2 separate regions of the Homo sapiens genome follow, and region 2 is linked to region 1. The links come from fine-mapping of genetic effects on gene expression. Tissue or cell type: whole blood. Region 1 holds a variant in brackets; the other region holds the start of a gene. All regions are shown on one strand. Distances are between the middles of the regions.

What was found. PIP is the estimated chance that this variant, and not a neighbour inherited with it, causes the effect.
Region 2: it holds the start of ETS1, and the variant in region 1 is fine-mapped to the expression of ETS1 in whole blood (TOPMed, PIP 0.93).

The regions. Positions count from the first base shown.
Region 1 is chr11:128,513,189-128,517,509 of GRCh38, forward strand. The region is part of intron 3 of ETS1 (ETS proto-oncogene 1, transcription factor); the gene reads right to left. Among named protein-coding and RNA genes, the nearest start is that of MIR6090, 7.0 kb to the right of the region's middle. The variant G/A (reference allele first, on the strand shown) is at 2,086.
Region 2 is chr11:128,585,489-128,589,646 of GRCh38, forward strand. It overlaps ETS1 (ETS proto-oncogene 1, transcription factor), which reads right to left and starts at 2,070. Exons shown (of 10, transcript NM_001143820.2): 1 at 2,000-2,070. LOC105369565 (a long non-coding RNA gene) reads left to right here. Exons shown (of 5, transcript XR_948163.3): 4 at 852-1,472; 5 at 3,533-4,158. RefSeq lists a silencer at 2,023-2,229.

The DNA.
Region 1 (4,321 bases):
TAACAGAATTTGGGGATTAGGATGCAAATCCCCATGTTGCCTACCTCTTGAATGGCAGTCTACACTCTCTCCAAGCCTTGGCTGTTTTAAATGTTACCTAAAGTCATAAGATGTCACTGTTAGGAGAAATCTGACAGGTCGTCATTCCAATGAATTTATTTGACTGATGAAGAAAATGAGGTGCATAAAAATGCAATGACTTGCCTAAGGTCACACAGACAGATACTGATGCAGAGCTGTGGCTGGAGACCAACACTCCCGACTCTCCAGCCCACATTCTCCTCACAGAGTGGATGCTGTTTATTTCATACACAATATTTATTCCTACTGGTAAGGAACAAATACGGTAAGGTCTTCCTTATCATCTGTGATTCTTCATTGCATTCTGTGCATTTATTTCGTGTCTTAATGATGTGAGACAACTGATGCATAAGGTATGGAATTAACTTAAATTTTTGGCAAAAGATATCAAATAGGAGAAATGTGTAGGTACTAGAAGTACAAAAGTCGGTTACATGGAAACTCTTTCACTGAAAATTTCCTGTGATAAATTTCTTAAAGGGTATTTCAAAATCAGACTTGGGCAGGGGCAGTGGCTCATGCCCGTAATCCCAACATTTTAGGAGGCCAAGGTGGAAAGATTGTTTGAAGCCAAGAGTTTAAGACCAGCCTGGGCAACATAGCGAGACCTCATTTCTACAAAAAAGAAAAAGAAAATCAGACTCAACAACACATTTTTATTCTGAACATGAATGATACTAATGCATCACACAACTCTAAACGCATCACACAACTCTAATTGCACACAAAAAAAGTAATTAATTGAGAACAGGTATAACACCTGGCACATAGTGGGAGACCCTAGATACTTCAAAAAACCCGTATCTACAAACACTCACCAGGCTTAGCAGATTCCTGTGCCTGACCGAGGTTATTTTCCATTTGTACCTTGAAAATATGTACCTGATTGATTTTGTCATCTTCTCTGAGGTTTAACGCTTATTCTGATAAACTGATACAGAGGTTTTAACAACAGTATGAGTAGGAGGAAAAGTAACCAAAAAAAAAAAGTTACCTATCTCATAAGCTTACTCAATAACTCTGCTCTACCCTTAAATATTCCTACTTTCAAAGGCAAAATTCATCCTGAGGTTCAAAACGCTCTTTGGGTCCTGGCCTCCTACTTCCTTCCTTCATCCCTTTCTACAAGTAAGTTTTTTTTCCTTCATGTTTATCTAAGCATCTCTTTCATTCCAAACTTGCAGCATTCTTCCCACGCTGCTCTCTATATGGAAAATAATCCTTTCCCTGTTCTTACACCTCCTTCAAATGCTTCAGAAGTGCCCCTGTTTCCCATGAAGCTGACCTATGAAACTAACTTAACACTGTTGCAAGAGAGAGCTTCACAGACACAGAAAATACCAACAGTCATTGATCCACACATATTTTCATAAATGTAAACACTGGTCCTCCTGCATTTTTTGCCATGGAAGCACCTGGAACCCAGGGAAGACTTCATCTGAGTTGTCCTGACCACCCATCTACCCATGAGGGATTTAAAGTATTCAGAAATGACCACAGGCAAGGAGTAGAAACAACAGACCCAAAACTGCCCATGGGGCCACCTGAGCCTGGAATTCCTAACCAGGTGTAATGCTTGGCCCAGATGAAAGCTTTTCCAAGAATCTATGTAATATCACTTAAATTCGTTCATCTTTAGTTTTACAATTTCCTTTCATTCATTCTTTCATACTTTCTTACTCTTCCTGTCCTCATTCTTATTCTTGTCTTTTTTTAATTCAAAAAGAATTTTGCAATTGAATCCACCATTCCTTTCCTCCCCTTCTAAAGAATTGAGGGCTTGTTTTTTATTTTTGCTTTTGTTTTTGCCCACTTTAATGGTACAAAAAGAAAACACAACATTTTTTTTGCCCCTTTTCAGCCCAAAGTAAAATTTCTTATCTTCGATAAACATTTAAACAAAACAAAACAAAAATTGCAATTGTCTTCACTTGTGTAATGAAGACACGTCCCTCTACTTCAAAGTTCATTTTATCTCTCTGTCACACACACACACACACACAC[G/A]CGCGCGTGCACACTACATGCAGAGTTTACAGTTTCTCCACAGAACCTTGCAAAGCAAAAATAAATGGCTTATCACAGCTACCCAAAGCTACCAAGAGGTTTCAAATGCTTGAAGTGAACTTGTCTGAGGTTGATTTGGGTTTCTCAGACACTGAGAAACAAATTTAAAATATAATCCATGTTTGGGGGAAAACCATACTAAACTTAAAGGGCTTCAAACTCTTAATCGTGCCTTATTAGCTTACTTAGATGGTCTAAACCCTGAAATTGGCAATTGAGAGAAGATATTCTAGAAAGTACGATTGACCAAATTTAGTGTCTAACTCGGGTGGCCCTCATCTGTGGGGAGAGCCCCAGTTAATGTCTGTCATTCTGATGCAATTATTAATAGTGCCCCTTTACACTCTCAAAGGTATCCCAGTTTGGGTGGTAAATTATACGATTTTCTATCTCTACACCATTATGATCTGAAGTCCAACAGCCTTAAAATTTCTAATATTACTTTGGGTCTAAAAGCACTATCTGGGTCAATATTCCACAACTCTTAGAGACAGTACTAAATGCTACAAGAAAGAACAATTGAGAAAAGTGGAAGGGGCAGTAATAAGCCACATTTGAAGTGTCAAGTGACAGGCTTGCACCCAAGCAGTAGACACTGGAAAGCACCTGGGAAATATGACAGCGTTGGCCAAGTGATCAATAAAATATTTACGGCTTGAATAGCAATATTTTGAGCGTGTCTGTTAAGCATGGCTCTCTGCCAATGAAACCAGACCTACCACAATCCACCCTGCAGACCTATGTCTTTCTGTATCTGCATGGAGATTATACATTATACAATCAGAAGGAAAAGGGGGTGCAGATAGGCGAAGGCTTCAGAAAAGCAGCCAAGTAGAAATAGCCTGTTTATGCAATTTGGAAAACATCCACTGAAGTTTTGAAAAAGATATCATCAACCCGACAGAAAAAATAAAGCAGAAAGTAGCTAGAGACACATGACAAGTAAAAATGATAGATTTGGGAATAGCCTTGACATTCCTAACCCTGAGTTAAGAACAGCTTAACAGCTGTGAGCGAAGGGTAGACCTAGAATACTGCAAACATAGAGGCAAATGCTATCAGAGGTTCCTTGTGAGCAGGAAAATGGAGCCAAGGTTTTCATTAAGGAGCAGCTAAATAAAAACACGGAGATGATGTTGTTCATATACAAATTCCTCTCTGCGGTGACAGTGTGGGCCCAAGCATACTAACTCTTCGGGAAAATGCTCCCCATAATGCAGTAATAAAGAAACCAATGCCTTAACCTTAAACAAGTGGCAGGGGAGTGTGCCTGTGTGTGAGCCATGGGCTGGGACAGCTGGCAGGTCTGCAGGTAGACACCTGGGGCTGTCTTGTGCCAGGACAACTCCAGACCATGTGCCCTGACACATGGAATGGACTTTTTTAAAAAAAACTAAATTTTAGGGGAAAAAACGAAATTTATATGAGGCATAGGCAGCAAATGCAACTCAACTATCTATGGCCTCTCTGCAAGCAGGATAATTAAATTTTAACTGCCTTAAGAAAATGAACTAGTTTGCCAAGCTATGTCTCATCATCCTGATTATGAGAGATTCAATGCACAGCAACATCAGTGATGAAGGGGAAGAAATGGGCAGAATCTGGAGGCTCAGCGAAGGACTGACCTTGGAGGTGAACATAATCACCTTCCTACCTGTGAGAGAGCCAAGGCCATATGGAAGACGTTGCAAAAACAAGAATCCTGGTTCTCTGCCTTTCATTCTGAGGTAAGCATTGCTGGAACTTTCAAACATCTTTCTAAAGCAACACATCTGGACTGCCAGGCCTGGGGACAACCCACAGGATGGACCCTTTCCCCAAGCCGTATGAAGCACTGAGCTAACAATGAGGCCACCTGATTCAGCTCAGGGGGCTCTTGCAGAGATAGCAGGGAGCCACTGTACCTCCTGAACCCCCAAAGCACCGACCAGCATTGCCTTCTCACCTGCCTGTGTTCTAATTTCCAGAGTTTTTGAGAATAACTCAAAATTTTAGGTATAAAATGCCTACAACATCTCATCAGTTTCTAAATTTCTAGAGTGTGGCCTTAGGCCAAGTATGCATCTCTCAGAAACTCATTTTCCTCATCTGAAAAATGGAGAAAATAATACTTCCACCACACCTCAGAGTAAGTGTGAAGCATAAAAGTGCTCTTTTATCTGGCTGTGCCCAGCAC
Region 2 (4,158 bases), 72 kb after region 1:
TCACAAGGTACATCAGAACCTCAGTTATCAGTAAGAAATTCACCAGTGCAATCAAAGAGAGAAATCTGTTGATTATTTGTTTGCAGTGTTTTGCCTTCTGCCTCACCCTCCCCTAGGTGAGAGGACCTGCACCCACACACCCAGTTTGTTGAAGTATTACTTCAGACAGTCCTTGACCTCACTGGCACTCTGATTTTTCATAGCCCTATGCTGTTTACTTCTATTCTCTCATATTTGTAAACCAGGCGGGGCGCAAATGATTGCTCACCTTTTAGAGATGAAGGGAAGAAGGCACAGACACGTTCAATCCCTGTTCTCTGTTACAAAGCTAATCACTGACATAATCCAAGTGCACAGCCACTTTCCCTTCTCCGACCCAGCGCTGGTTCAAGTTCTGACCCCACTTGCCTTTGAACTCCATTATCGTCCGGGACCGGCCACTGGCCCAAGTCGGTGCTCTGGCCACAGACTGCCAGATGCCAAAGGATCCCACCCCTCTACCAGCTTCCCCCAGGCTCTGCCTCAGGACATCCTTTCACAGCCAGCAACTAGCACCTCCGTGTAAGGAGCCTGCCGGGCAAAGATGCCCCCTCCATAATTAGGCTCTCGGCTTGGCTTCCCACATCCTCAGCAGCGGAACCAGGACGGAAGAGGCTGCATGGATGCCTGAACTGTTTGTTATTTCACTATTGAGTTGGCAAGGATGGAAGTAGTTGATTTACAATTAGAAGCAGCATGCTTCTTCAAATATTAATATTAATAACTGCACTACTGAACACATGAAAAGACCTTTTCATCTTCAAAGCACTTTGCAGACATTAACCCATTAGCTCTCCCTTCCCTCCATTCAGGAACAACAGGTGAGCAAGACTCTCAACAGCAGCAGTGGCCACCCTGCAGCCCTTGTGCACAGCCCACGGCCCCTGAAGAAAAAGCGTTTTCTCTTTGGATAAAAATAGGCCACCAAACCCAAAACCACAACTGATGAAAGAGTTATAGTATCAGTAATTTTACAAATCAAATGGAGCTGATGGAGTTATCATTTTAGAATTGGTATTTCCTGCTGTTTAACAAATACTTTTTTCTCAGTTGCATGGCAGTGGTCTAAAGTAAGAAGGAAAATGGACTTGAGATTAAAAACAAAAACTTACCCAAAAGGTGATAAAGAAATCCTGCAATAGAATGCATTGATTTCAGTGACCCAGCACCCTTTTAAGTTTGCCTGAAGAAAATACTACTTTAAAAGTTGGTAACAGAGACCTTTAACGGTGGGTGAGGAGTCACATACAAAGTGTCACGGCCAGATAAAATCACCGGATGCAGAGGAATTGCCATCGACATCTCCTGCCACTGAGTCCAGCTCTACCGTGGGGACAAGAAATACCTCCCTAACTCTGAGACAACCGCGGCCCACACCCACACCATGTCTCAACAACAGACTTAGGAACTTGTAGATCTTTGGACAACTGCAGGTCAGTCCCAAGACAGAGAAAAACACCAAACAGGCTAGTTTGGCTAGCAAGATTCAAACCTGTAGCAATTTCCTCTCTATTAAAAGCAATTCATTAAACTACTAGCAGGAGAAAAAAGTAAAACAATAGATTTACTAGGAGTGAAAGAGAATAAAAAGAAATTTATATATTTAACTACAGCTTTATTTCTTTGGAAGTGCTCCAATTTGCAAAAAAAAAAAAAAAAAATCAGGGTTTCTGACAAGTAATCTACGGGTATCTAAAACGTGCATGGTTTTACTTTTGTGAAGCAGGGAACATTTTTAAAAACATAGTCTTGCTTTCAGACTATTCTGACGAGGTTAGGAAGTATTTTTGAAAATTGTTAAACAATTAAATGGGAATATAGAAAGACGTGAAAAGAGAAAGAGAAAACTCACTTGTATCCTGAATCTCCCTACCGACTTACTCTTTAATTCCACAGAAATTTTTTTAAAGCAGGAAAAGGAAAATGGACTGAAAAGTTTTAGGCAGAAACTGACACACACCTCACTTACTACTTTGCCGGAGAGCAGATCCTGAGTGAGCTTCCCTCAAAGTCTGTGGTCTCTTTCCAACTACCTGCGGGAATCCTCTGCTCCGTAGCTTAAGAGGATGCAAAGACCATAATGTTTCTAATAGAGCTGCCTCCTTAAATTGGGGGGTGTGGTCAAGCCAGGGAAAGCTGGAAAAAAGGCAGTCTTCCTCTTGCCCCTGGCACCAGGACAGCAGCCACTGGCACAGGCACAGCAGTCTAGGTGGAAAGCACTGTTGATTGACAGTGGTGGCACCAAATCACACATTATTTCGTATTCTTCAAATTGTGCTTCAGCTGAATATAACTCAGCCTTGGAGAGTAACAGGGAGGGAGATGAGCAAAAGGGAACTAGTTCAGTGGGATAACACTGTATCTCACCTCATCATTTGCTGATGCATTTACTCTCTGCTGAATATGTAAATATTCATGCTTCATGTTCCTTGACTTTCTCAATGGAGCCCCCATTAACCTAGGCAAGGTCTCAGGTGAGGGAAAGGGATTGCTTTAGAAACACAGGACGTCCACCACCCAGTCACCTGCTCAGGCTTCCCGTTTCTCTCTAATAACTTGATATGAAATGTGATATTTTCTAAAGAAAAGAAAATAATTTTGTGGAAGAGAGCTGACTGGATATGGACTTGGGATTTCTGAAAAGTAAAGCTAAAAATCCCCTTTTCATATAAGTCTGGTTTTAGGCAATCTCTAAAATAAGGATACTTTTAGCAGCCCTGACTCATGGTCCGTGGTGCAGGAATAAAAGGGCAGAAGTGTTCATACATTTCTCATTTAGGGAAAATGTAAACAATATGAAAATCTTACATCTGTCCTAAGTGAAAATACACAGCATCTTTTATTCACATATTCAGGACTATGGTAAGAATGTTACAGCATAATCTCATTTCTATGAATGGAGTTATTACAATTTTTTTTGAGAAGTCAGTATTTGGCTGCTTAATCTAAGACTTTTATCCTAAAAGATTCCATCTTCTTTGAGTAGGAGGTGGGAGTTAAGATTTGTCATAGTTGGCTTCTTTCTCTTTTTAATAAAGATACAAACTTAGAAAATCCTTGAAAATCTAATAACTGTCATTTGGAGCCATATCATCATCAGCCTTCATTGTATAAAGCTGGCAATGCAGTTAAGATGACATTGTAAGTAAAGCAAGATTTTACTGCTCATCTTCTGCCTTTGCACATTAACTTGGAAGTAAGGAAGAGGTAATGCTATTGGTTCACTTTAGTTTAATAAATTGCCTGTGCCAGGCACTGTTCTAGGCACTAGAAAGATAGCAAGTTTGCATTGTAGTGAGGAGACAGACACATAAATCAACGATCTCCCCCCAAAAATGTAATACATGCTACAAAAGAAGTCTATGAAGAGAGCTAGGGAAGCTTCAGCCTGCCCCTGTAACCCAGTCAATTTCAGCACACTGCCCCATTTAAAGAGCCCACGGTCAATTATACCAATCATAACTAATTACAACTGTATTCACTATGTTTGCAGGATAATTGAAAAAAACAAAGTTGAGAAGACTTGGATTCTTGCTCTATAAGGGTGTACAGTGTGGCTGTCAAGGGGTTCTGAAGTCTGGAGTTGTCTATGCTGAGTTTATATAGAAAGCAACTCTTCAGGACCTTAGCTCCCTCCTCTGACACGGCCTTTTACGGTGTGGAAGAACATAAACTAGAAATCTTAATAGTGCAAAATAAGCCACCACTGTCATAAATTGCCTAGAGAATGCCCAGGAAAACAGTAAGTTTTGTTTTAAACAGTATTTTCAAAAATATAACATTAGATGGGTATCCACATATAAGAGCATGACATTGGACTCCTACCTTACACCATACTCAAAAATTAACAAAAATCTATCAAAGATCTGAACATAAGAATGAAAATTATAAAATTCTTAGAAAAAATCAAAGAAGAAAACTTCATGACATTGGATTTAGCAATGATTTCCTGGGATATGACAGCTTATCCCAGGAAAAAAAACTTGGGCAACAAAAGAAAAAATAGATAAGTTGGACTTTATCAAAGTTTTAAAATGTTGTACATCAAGGGGCACTATTAAGACAGTGAAAGGGAAGTCCACAGAATGAGAAAAAAAATTGCAAATCACATATCTAATA